Regions from separate parts of the Homo sapiens genome. Here region 2 is linked to region 1. The links come from fine-mapping of genetic effects on gene expression. A gene starts in region 1. The other region holds a variant in brackets. All regions are shown on one strand. Distances are between the middles of the regions.

Region 1 (5,381 bases):
CAATCACATTTCTACATGGATGTCCACTCTGTTGAATCTAGGCATACAAATGGACAGCTTTCTCTGGGTCTTTACTTCTGAAGGCTCCTGTGTCACATAAGACTTCCATTAAATTAATTTGTTACACTTTTCTCTTGTTAACCTGTCTTTTGTTGTAGAAGTGTTGGCCATGACCCTTATGATGGGTGAGGAAAGGTATGGAGTGCAGTGGCATGATCATGGCTCACTGCAGCCTCAACCTCCAGGGCTCAAGTGAACCTCCCACTTCAGCCTCCTGAGTAGCTGGGACTACAGGTGTGCCGTAGAGACAGGGTCTCGCTATTTTACCCAGGCTGGTCTCAAACTCCTGGGCTCAAGTGAGCCTCCTACTTTGGCCTCCCAAAGTGCTGGGATTACAGGTATAAGCCACCCTGCCGGCCTTCTGATAGTTTTTAATTTACAGTTTACAGTGTATTTCACTTTAATACATTCCTTATCTAAGATTGCCTTTGAGGTTTAAAATGTTGGAAGTTAATACCTTACATTGTATGTGCCTCTGAAGGTATCTGTAAATGATGTCCCATGTTATTATTTTTGCATTCCCTTAGAGGCAACATTTTATATAACAGTTGTCCAAAGGCCTAAGGCAGAGGATGTAATACTGGGTACTCACGGTATATGACGACTTTCCCAAATGGGAAATGAGCATGGAGGCTCTGTTTTCAGGCAGTCAGTTCTATCCTCATTTTCCTTGAGTAGAAGCATCCCTAAAATTGGCCTGAAAATGTGTCCTTGGGTCAGGGTGTAATGTGGGCTCTTTTCCAGTCTCCTTTCTTCCAATGACCTCTTCCCTACTTTACAAAAGAAAGGCATAATTCTTCCTCATGCTAAATCTTAGTAAGGTGCAATACCCGGTTATGCAAAAACCTCCAGGACACCAAAGAAAGGCACAATTGACTGGTGAATAAGAATGGGGTAACACATCCTTTCACAAGTCAGGTGGTTTTCAGTTGCTTGCTTTCAACAAGTTGAAAGAGAACCTAATCAGAGTTGTCAGCTGACAGATCATTAAAAGTATTTTTTCTTTGTTAGATCTTTATGCGATTTTTGGGCATATAATGCGAAAGGCATTCAAAGAATTGTGTGGCATTACTATAACAAAACTCCATTCATTCTCATCTGCTTTTTTTATGCGAACAAGTTTTCTCAACACTTATATCCATGGAATTGAAAACTTGGAATAGAACTGATGCTGAACTATTTCTCAAAAAAATCCATCCACTGAAGGTCATAATGTATATTAGAAAAAAGTCCACCCAAGTTCATTTCTGCAAGATGCATTGCCAATAAAATTTTGCTTTTGTGTTTAGTACTTACAAACATTTGAAATAGATTTGTTTTGATCGGTTGAAATAAGAGCTTTATGATCACAGAAAATATAAAAAACAACCCAGATACTTCAATTTATGTTCACATTTTTATTACAAGTAAGACGATCAAAATAGTTCAAATATAAAATATATTACTAGGATAAAATTCTAGAGGAGATATGCAACGTCAATATGAGTTCCAGAAAACAATATTTGGAAATTGTATTTTCCAAACTGTATTTTAAAAAAATGGATATTAGTGGGTGTTAAATCCCTATGGTATTTAGAATCCATTGGCTATACAGTATTTAAACAATGCGACAGATGAAATATTTATAAGCCGGAAAAATGTAGCTGTCATTCTAAACTGTATAAGAACATACACAGCTTTACGAAATTGTTTTAGAAGGCTCATGAAGTAAAAAGTTTGAGGACCCTGAACCAAGATGTTTGCTCTGGGTTCAGGATGTCAACATCTCCAGGGGTATTCAAACATAGGGTGTATTAAAACCTGTCGCCCTGTGTTGCGCATAAAAATTTAGTACCTTACACCGTAGTGTTTTAATTTTTGCCCATTTTAAACCGCTCTCTTCGTAGACTGTAGGCTCGTTCTATTCCTGGCTCAGCTCCTGTACAGAGGGGACACTCCTCAAACACCCCCGGAATGAATGAGTTTATCGTGAGAACTCGGAAGGCTGCTAAAATCCCCGGCCAGCGTTGGAGTTTTCAGTCCGCGTGTCCCTGGGCTTCGAAGCCCGGCAGGGCGTGGGAAGGCCCCGAGGAAACGCTGAGCACTTGCAGGCGCCGGGGCGGGGGCGGGGGCGGGCACTGGGCAGCGGGGCGGGCGCCGGGCGGGGGCGGGGGCGCAGAACCCGCAGCCGGGGGAGGTGCTGCCTCGTGCCGCCGCGCAGGCGCGCAGCAGTCTCCGTGTGAGTGCGCGTAGTCGCGCGCCTGTCCCCGCGCGGGCTCCGTAGCGCGTGTGCAGGCTGACGCAGCTCGCGGGCCCTCCTCCTGCTCTGCAGCGGCGTCGGCGGAGTTTTGGGCGTTTGGGAGGGGGGCGAGGGAGAGAGAGTCGAGAGAGGGAGGCGGCGGTGGGGAGGAGGAGGAGGAGGAGGAGCAGGCGCCGCCATGGCCGCCGCTATCACCGACATGGCCGACCTGGAGGAGCTCTCCCGCCTGAGCCCTCTGCCCCCCGGCAGCCCGGGTTCGGCGGCGCGGGGCCGGGCTGAGCCCCCCGAGGAGGAGGAGGAAGAGGAGGAGGAGGAAGAGGAGGCGGAGGCCGAGGCGGTGGCGGCGCTGCTGCTGAACGGCGGCAGCGGTGGGGGCGGCGGAGGCGGCGGCGGAGGAGTGGGGGGCGGCGAGGCAGAGACGATGTCGGAGCCGAGCCCCGAGAGCGCCAGCCAGGCCGGGGAGGACGAAGACGAGGAGGAGGACGACGAGGAGGAGGAAGATGAGAGCAGCAGCAGCGGCGGGGGTGAGGAGGAGAGTAGCGCCGAGAGCCTGGTGGGCAGCAGCGGCGGGAGCAGCAGCGACGAGACCCGCTCGTTGAGCCCCGGCGCCGCCAGCAGCAGCAGCGGGGATGGGGACGGCAAGGAGGGCCTGGAGGAGCCCAAGGGACCGCGGGGCAGCCAGGGCGGCGGCGGGGGCGGCAGCAGTAGCAGCAGCGTAGTCTCCAGCGGCGGCGACGAGGGCTACGGGACTGGGGGAGGCGGAAGCAGCGCGACCTCCGGGGGCCGGCGGGGCAGCTTGGAGATGTCGTCGGATGGGGAACCCCTGAGCCGCATGGACTCGGAGGACAGGTCAGTGCTCTGAAGCGTTTCCCCTTCCCTTCCTCCTCTTGAACTCCCGGGCCCCTCAGAGGGGGACCAAGGCGACGTTTTGCCGCGATCCCCCTGCTCCCCGAATCCTCGGCCCCTCCCCCAGACTCTCAACTCGGAAATCTCTCGCCGTCGCCGCCGCGCCCCTCTCGCAGCGCATCGCGGCTTCCAACTCTCAAACCGTTCCCCCCCAACTCTCCTTTCCCCGCCCTCTTTCCCCTCGGCGCTTCGCTCCTCACGGACCTCAGGACGGCTCTAACTCGGAAACAGTCCCCAAACGGGCCCAGATCCTCTGGCGGAGCAGAAGAGGGCCTTGATGTACACACGTCGGTACTCAAGGTTAGCTTCTTCCAACCGTGTTCGGGAACACTTGTCAGAACTACAATTGACAAGTGTTTCCAATATGGCTGGTCTCGCCTGGATTTAACAGAACTTCCTTGTCCATGGGAGAGACCCCAGCTATCACTTTTCTCTACTTAAACAAAAAAAGGACTGTTCTTTTATATTAAATCATTGCCTCCCAAATCCCTCATTTGTAGTCAGTCATGTGGTCTCCAACGTGATTTTAACAATCTTTTCTATTTGTTTTGGGAGCATATCTGGGAAAAAGTTTTAAACACGTATAAATGGTTGTGGAAAAGAATAGTGAATTGATGGCCTTTTAAGATAACTTTGCGGAATCAGAGAGTTGGAATCGTAACAAAATACAGTCTTGAAGGTACAACGTAGTTTGCGGCTTTATAGTAATGTTTCAACATGAGAGTCATGATTTTAAATGATAATATTTAAAGTCATGCATTGGAGAGGTCTCGGAAGGAATGAGTATTATTTTTCTTACTAAAGCTTGTTAGAAGTAACTGGAGAGTGACAAAAATGCGCATTTTTTCAGAACATTTAAAAAGTGTGATAGTGTATGTTTCAATTGTCTTATCATTACTTTTGATCTGTTTGGGTTAGTTGGTTTTTAATGTACTTTTAAAAAAACGAGAATCACATGCATATTATGCCACTTCTAAAGTGTATTAGCGTTTATTTTGACCATCTATGTTTTGACAATCACATTTTTTTTAAACATGCTCTCCAGAAAAGTATAGCAATGGAAATTTTAGTGGTCGATAGTGATTTTCATTTAAGAGTTTAATATTCTAAAGTTCTAGGAATTCTGATTAATTGATTAAAAACGAACACCTTAGTATTTAATGCTACAAGTAATACAGAGTCCTGGATATTTTGAAAATCTGGCATTAGATTCTGTTTGACATTAACGTCTAGTTAAGAAAATATCTTCGGGTAAAGTAGACTGTATAAACCTTAGAAAAATTGTGTTGAACTGTGTAGGCATGGGTAGGAAGGAGAATGTCTTCAAGAAAATTAAAAATTGATGTAAACTGCACAATGAAGCATGTGCTATTTTTACCATTTTATGCTCCTCTGATACCATTACATATCTGAAAGTTGACATTAGTTTATAAAATCAGCGTTTTTCATTTACTCAGTATACACGTATTATGCTTGCCTACCACTGTACAAATTAGATGTCTTCCATTTCATTCCCACAACTATGGTGCAAGATAGGTATTATTTTGACTTCTGTTTAACAGATGAAGAAGCAAGTTGAGTATCTTACTCAGGACAGTAAATACAGCATGGAAATGGTGGGCTGGATATGAGCAAAGGTTCTCAAGTCCCCTATTATTTCCACTGAAGAGTTAAAATAATTCGCCTTAAATAAGTTGAGGCCGGGCGCGGTGGCTCAGGCCTGTTAACCCCAGGACTTTGGGAGGCCGAGGTGGGCGGATCACCTGAGTTGGGAGTTTGAGATCAGCCTGGCCAACATAGTGAAACCTTATCTACATTAAAAATACAAAAATTACCCGAGAGTGGTGGCGCGCGCCTGTGTTCCCAGCTACTCGGGAGGCTGAGGCAGGAGAATCGCTTGAACCCGGGAGGCAGAGGTTGCAGTGAGCTGAGATGGTGCCACTGCACTCCAGCCTGGGCGACAGAGCGAGACTCCGTCTCAAAAAAAAACCAAGTGATATGTGTCAGAGTTTTGTTTTTAGTTAGTGTCCATTTACTACATCACTTCAGGAGACGAATTATTGGTTAAGTACATTTAGGAAGTGGAGTTGTGGCTTTTATTTGACATTAATGAGATATTTACTTGAGTATATAATTTTTACATCTTATTTCAGAATAAGAAGTAAAATACGGGTGT
Region 2 (5,381 bases), 110 kb after region 1:
TTGCAGAAAATCTTTTGTTTGACCTCAAAATCTCAGTGGTAATTTCAGGTGAAAATCAGAATAGAGAGCAATGTGATACGTGATATATTCATCTGCATGACTACGAGCTGGTCACTGATTTCTCTGGCTGGTCGCTGATTTCTCTGGCTCTCGGCACATATCATTCACTAGGAGGTAAATAGAGAACACTGCTTTGGATGCCTCTCCGTGAAGTGAGGCAAGATAATACTATTTATTACCAGTCAGAAGTCAGCTTGCTTCATGTCCTCAGAATGCTGCCTGAGGTCCTGCTCTGTGTCTTCACCTTCTTGTTTGCCTGGAGAGATTCCAGCTACAGGCCATTCACACAATGAAATGCCTTTGATTTCTATTCCAGAGTATTGGGACATGCATGTTTGCTGGGCAGTAAACATAGTTTTCACAGTTATAGTCATATTTTCCAATGCTGCAAGAAAGACCATTTATGATTTTAGCACCAAAAACCCAAGAAGATTGTTTTCTTTTTTTTTTTTTGAAGATTGTTTTCTTATTAGCCTTATTAGCAAAAAGAAAAAAAAAGAAAGAATAGAAAAAACCCTTACAAAATATTGGCCAGTTCAGGTGAAGCAATAAAGATGTTTGAGGGAAAATGATTCTAATCGTTTTAAAGCTAAAGCTGAGGAATTGGGCTATCTAAATGTAGCTTTAGGATTGCCATCGGTTGCACGAGCTTGCTTTCTGTTTGTGAAGGAGAACTTGCCTGTTGAAGAAATGCGGCACACAAGCTGTAATATAACAGGAAAGGAAGGCTTTTTGTGCCAAGAAATCACTCACGTGAGCTGGGATCCTTTTAACAAATCTGGTGGCAAGCTCTTTCTGAAAGCTTGAATGAAGAAGGAGATAATCTAAAATTGTGTTCATGGCAACCACCCTCAGCCTTTCATATGGAGTTTGCAGGGCCTGTCTGAAGCACATATTCAGCCCTTGCCGTTCAGCTTTTGTGCAGCCAAATGGTGCACAAAGACGGCTTCTCTGGCTAATTGGAATAGCTTCCAGTGGGTGGTGATGGTTTTTACATTTATAGCAAGTTCTAGATCTGACTAGAGATACAGCACACCCCCAAAAATGAGCCATCGGTACTTCTGGGGTGGAGTTAACCAACCAGTGCCTCTCAGAGTAAGGTTCAAGTTCAGACCTGCAAGGGCATACAGTTCCAGGAGGGGAACAAGCTCCTTCAGAGTTGTTTCTTCCCCCTATAACCAAGGACTGAACTTTTTCCTCTATCACATTTGGCTCCATAATTTTCTTAAGTAGTGGCCCCATCTGCAAATAATGTTTTACTTAGGATATTTTTATGTTGATGAAAACTCAAAAGCTTTCAGCCTTCAACTCCCTGAGCCTGGGTAAAACTCCACCCTTCTTCATATTTGTAAGTCTGTTTTCTCATCCTGTTAACATTCCTCTTTGAAAGGGAAACACACTGTTTCCATCTCAGGCCTGCATACTTGACCTTCCATATCACTGATGATTTGAGAAATAAAAAAGGAATTGCTGCCCCTGCATTCTTTTCCCAATTTGAGTCCTTTCTCAGTGAGGTCCCTTTGACCTTGACCTCTGGAGAGAATTCAACAAAGGCAAGAACTGGGCCAAGAATTAAGTTGGATGAGACTTCTGAATAGTGTCCAAAACACTATACTGGGGCTTCTAACATCCTGAATAAGGACCAAAATGACCCCTAAAATTTACTGTCCTCAGCAGCACAAGCATGACAGGAAATATGGGGGTTGTTACTACTTTTTTCTTCCTTTTAAATAAGTATAATATCCCAGGGTAAAAAAAAGTATTGTTTTGTTCATATAGAAAGTAGTAGACATAAATCCTCCATTTCTTCCTCCCTCCCTCCCTCCCTCCCTTCTTTCTTTCCCTCCCTCCCTCCTTTCTTCCTTTTTTCCTGAAGCAACAGAACAGTTTGGTTTGAAGTTTGCTTTTGCCATCATGAAAGGCAGAATTTAGCTCTTCATCTGAATAAATAATACATAATTTTAGATTTGTGATAAATTCTAGACCTGTCTAGGATAAGAAATATATTTTTATTTAAATATGAAAGGCAATCTCTTGAGAGCATTATGTGGGAACCATGCTATTTAAATATCTTTATGCTGGAAAGAATGTCTTCTTAAATAATTCTAAGCTTCCACCTGGAGAATGAAGCCTTGTCACAGGGTCAAGAGAAAAATACTGAACTAGAAATCAGGAGATGTAAAAGTCCTAGCTTCAAGCTCAACGGCAAATAAATTACTTCTTTCTTTCTTTTTCTTTCCTTCTTTCTTTCTTTCTTTCTTTTCTTTCTTTATTCCTTTTCTTTCTTTCCTTTCTTTCCTTCTCTTTCTTTCCTTCCTTCCTTCCTTCCTTCCTTCCCTTTCTCTCTCTCTTTCTTTCTCTCTCTTTCTCTCTCTCTCTCTTTCTCTCTTTCTTTCTTTCTCCAAGTCTCACTCTGTCACCCAGGCTGGAGTGCAGTCGCATGATCTCTGCTCACGGCAACCTCTGCTTCCCGGGTTCAAGTGATTCTCCTGCCTCAGCCTCCCAAGTAGCTGGGAGTACAGGCATGTACAAAAAATACTAATTTTTGTATTTTTAGTAGAGATGGGGTTTTACCATGTTGGCCAGGCTAATGTCAAACTCCTGACCTCAAACGATCTGCCTGCCTAGGTCTCCCAAAGTGTTGGGATTACAGACGTGAGCCACCACACCTGGCTTCAAATTTTCTTTGTTGTCTTGGGCAAGTCATTTTCTCTCCCTTTACACCTTAGCGAACTGATAGGTAAAATGAGGTGGTGGAACTAAGGCAGT[GTATT/G]TATTTATCTATTTTGAAATTTCCATTTTTATTTTAGGTTCAGAAGGTGTACCTGCAGGTCTGTTACATGGGCATATTGTGTGATGCTGTGATTGATTTGAACTTCTATTGATCCCTTCCCAGAGATAGTGAACGTAGTACTCAATAAGAAGGTTCTCAGCTCTTGGCTCCCTCCCTTCTTCCCTTCCTCCTTTTAGAGTCCCCAGTGACTATAGTTCTCATCTTTATGGCCATGTATGCCAAAGATGTAGCTCCCGCCTGTAAGTGAGAGCATGCGGTATTTGGTTTTCTGTTTCTGTGGGAATTGGCTTAGGATATGGCCTCCAGCTGCATCCATCTTGCTCTAAGGCAGTGAACTTAAGTTCTCCTTTTTAATTTTATTTTTTCCATTGTGATGTCCTATTGTCAAATGCAATTTTACGTAAACTCTAGTATGTAACAGATTAAAACTATATTTTATTAGATAATTTATGAATTCACAATTATAATCTTTATCCAAAAGTTATGCAATGAGAACAGAGGCTGTTTTGGTGTTCATAAACAATTGAAATGGGAGTTGCATTCGTTTCCCAGGACTGCCCTAACCAACTACCACAAACTGGTGGCTTTAAGCAACAGAAATTTGTTCTTTACCCGTTCTGGAGTCTATAAGTCTAAAATCAAGGTGTTGCCAGGCCATCGGCCCTCTAGAGTATTAGCGGGGAATCTTTCCTGGCCTCTTCCAGCATCTGGTAGTGCCAGGCTTGGTGTGGCATGTGGCAGCAAAACTCCAATCACTGCCTTTATATGGCCGCCTTCTCTCTGTGTCTGAGTTATCACGGCATTCTCCTGTCTGTGTCACTGTTTTCTCTGTCCCCTAGACTGGAGTACAGTGGTGCAATCTCCGCTCACTGCAACCTCCACCTCCCGGACTCAAGCAATTCTCCTGCCTCAGCCTCCCAAGTAGCTGGGTTTACAGGTGCGCACCACCATACCCGGCTAATTTTTGTATTTTTAGTAGAGACTGGGTTTCGCCATGTTGGCCAGGCTGGTCTCGAACTCCTGACCTCAAGTGATCCGCCCGCCTCGGCCTCCCAAAGTGCTGGGATTACAAACGTGAGCCACCGCACCCGGCCCTGTTTTTCTTTTCTTATAAGGACACCACTCATATTGGATTAAGGGCCTATCCTAATTGACTATCACCTCATCTTAACTTGATTACATCTGATTCAAGTTAGGAATGCAACATATTGTTTTGGGGGACACAAATCAATATACAGTAAGAGTTATAGATAACGACTGCAGTGTTATACTAACATTATTATCTAACTTATTTTTGTATTTTGTTTGGTGGTACCATATGGAGAAAAATTTTGGCCCACACAGATAATTAATTAAAAATGGTAGTTTTTTTTTTTTTAAACATTTAACCATGTCACTTTGCAATCTCAATTTCAATTCCTTCAGTCAAACTGATCCAGAAGTCTGAAAGAACAACATTAGGGAATTTATATACCAGTGTTAAATTACTGACAATATCTTTAAAAACACTCACCTTCCTTACTGGGGAGTATTCACTTTTTAAAAGGAGCTGATGAATGGACTCCCGGGGAAGCTTAAATCATCGTCATATTTGGCCAACGCTGTGTGGCCAAATGTCATAATAGCCTGAGTTATTCAATGGTGACTTTTTTTTTGAGACAGGGTCTCACTCTGTTGCCTAGGCTGGAGTGCAGTGGTGCGATCTCGGCTCACTGCAACCTCTGCCTCCCAGGTTCAAGAGATTCTCCTACCTCAGCCTCCCGAATAGCTGGGATTACAGAGGCATGCCACCATGCCCTGCTAATTTTTGTATTTTTGGTAGAGACAGGGTTTCACCATGTTGGCCAGGCTGGTCTCAAACTCCTGGCCTCAAGTGATTCACCTGTCTCAGCCTCCCAAAGTGTTGAGATTACAGACGTGAGCCACCGGGCCCAGCCTCAAGGTGACTTTTGAAAACATCTTGTTAGTGGCATGTTCTGTCAGACGTTCCCTTGAGATTTCAAAAGAGTAATAATAGTTTTGTATTTTAGTGTAAACTTGGTTTCAGCTGTGTTGCTAACACATTCCTGCTGTTGTGAGCAGTGATGTGGAAACCATGTACCACTGAATTAAAAGTAGCATCTAGGTACTTTACCTCGTACAGCTATGTTCCAGAGATGTTTACTTACTGGAGTTTTTTTAAAAACAAAAATGTTATTTATATTTTTATTGGAAATATCTGTACCAGAACCTTGTCTTGAAAGTATTAAAAACTTCAATGTTAAAACATACATTCTAGAACTGACCATCCTTATTAGTATAAATAACTCTGAAAGGTGCTCAGTTTACAGGCAATGCCTTAATACGGTTAACAATTATGAAGCTTTACCCAACATCTTTCAGAATATTGCAGAGAAAACTATTAAGCACAAATACAATGACCACGAGCGTATTTCAGCAACTGCTTTATCTGAGCAACTCTTTTCACTCCACCAGAATAGACTTGGTTACATTTTCAACAGGTTACTCAATGGCGTATTAAAACTGA

Evidence for each region. PIP is the estimated chance that this variant, and not a neighbour inherited with it, causes the effect. A credible set is the group of variants that fine-mapping cannot tell apart.
Region 2: its variant is the best candidate, but not a certain one, in a credible set for the expression of AEBP2 in whole blood (INTERVAL, PIP 0.85).

The regions. Positions count from the first base shown.
Region 1 is chr12:19,437,223-19,442,603 of GRCh38, forward strand. AEBP2 (AE binding protein 2) reads left to right here and starts at 2,270. Exons shown (of 8, transcript NM_153207.5): 1 at 2,270-3,148. The coding sequence starts at 2,478. RefSeq lists silencers at 2,138-2,387, 2,448-2,597, 2,608-2,707 and enhancers at 3,358-3,407, 3,438-3,527.
Region 2 is chr12:19,545,931-19,551,311 of GRCh38, forward strand. No RefSeq gene overlaps it. Among named protein-coding and RNA genes, the nearest start is that of AEBP2, 110 kb to the left of the region's middle. The variant GTATT/G (reference allele first, on the strand shown) is at 2,830.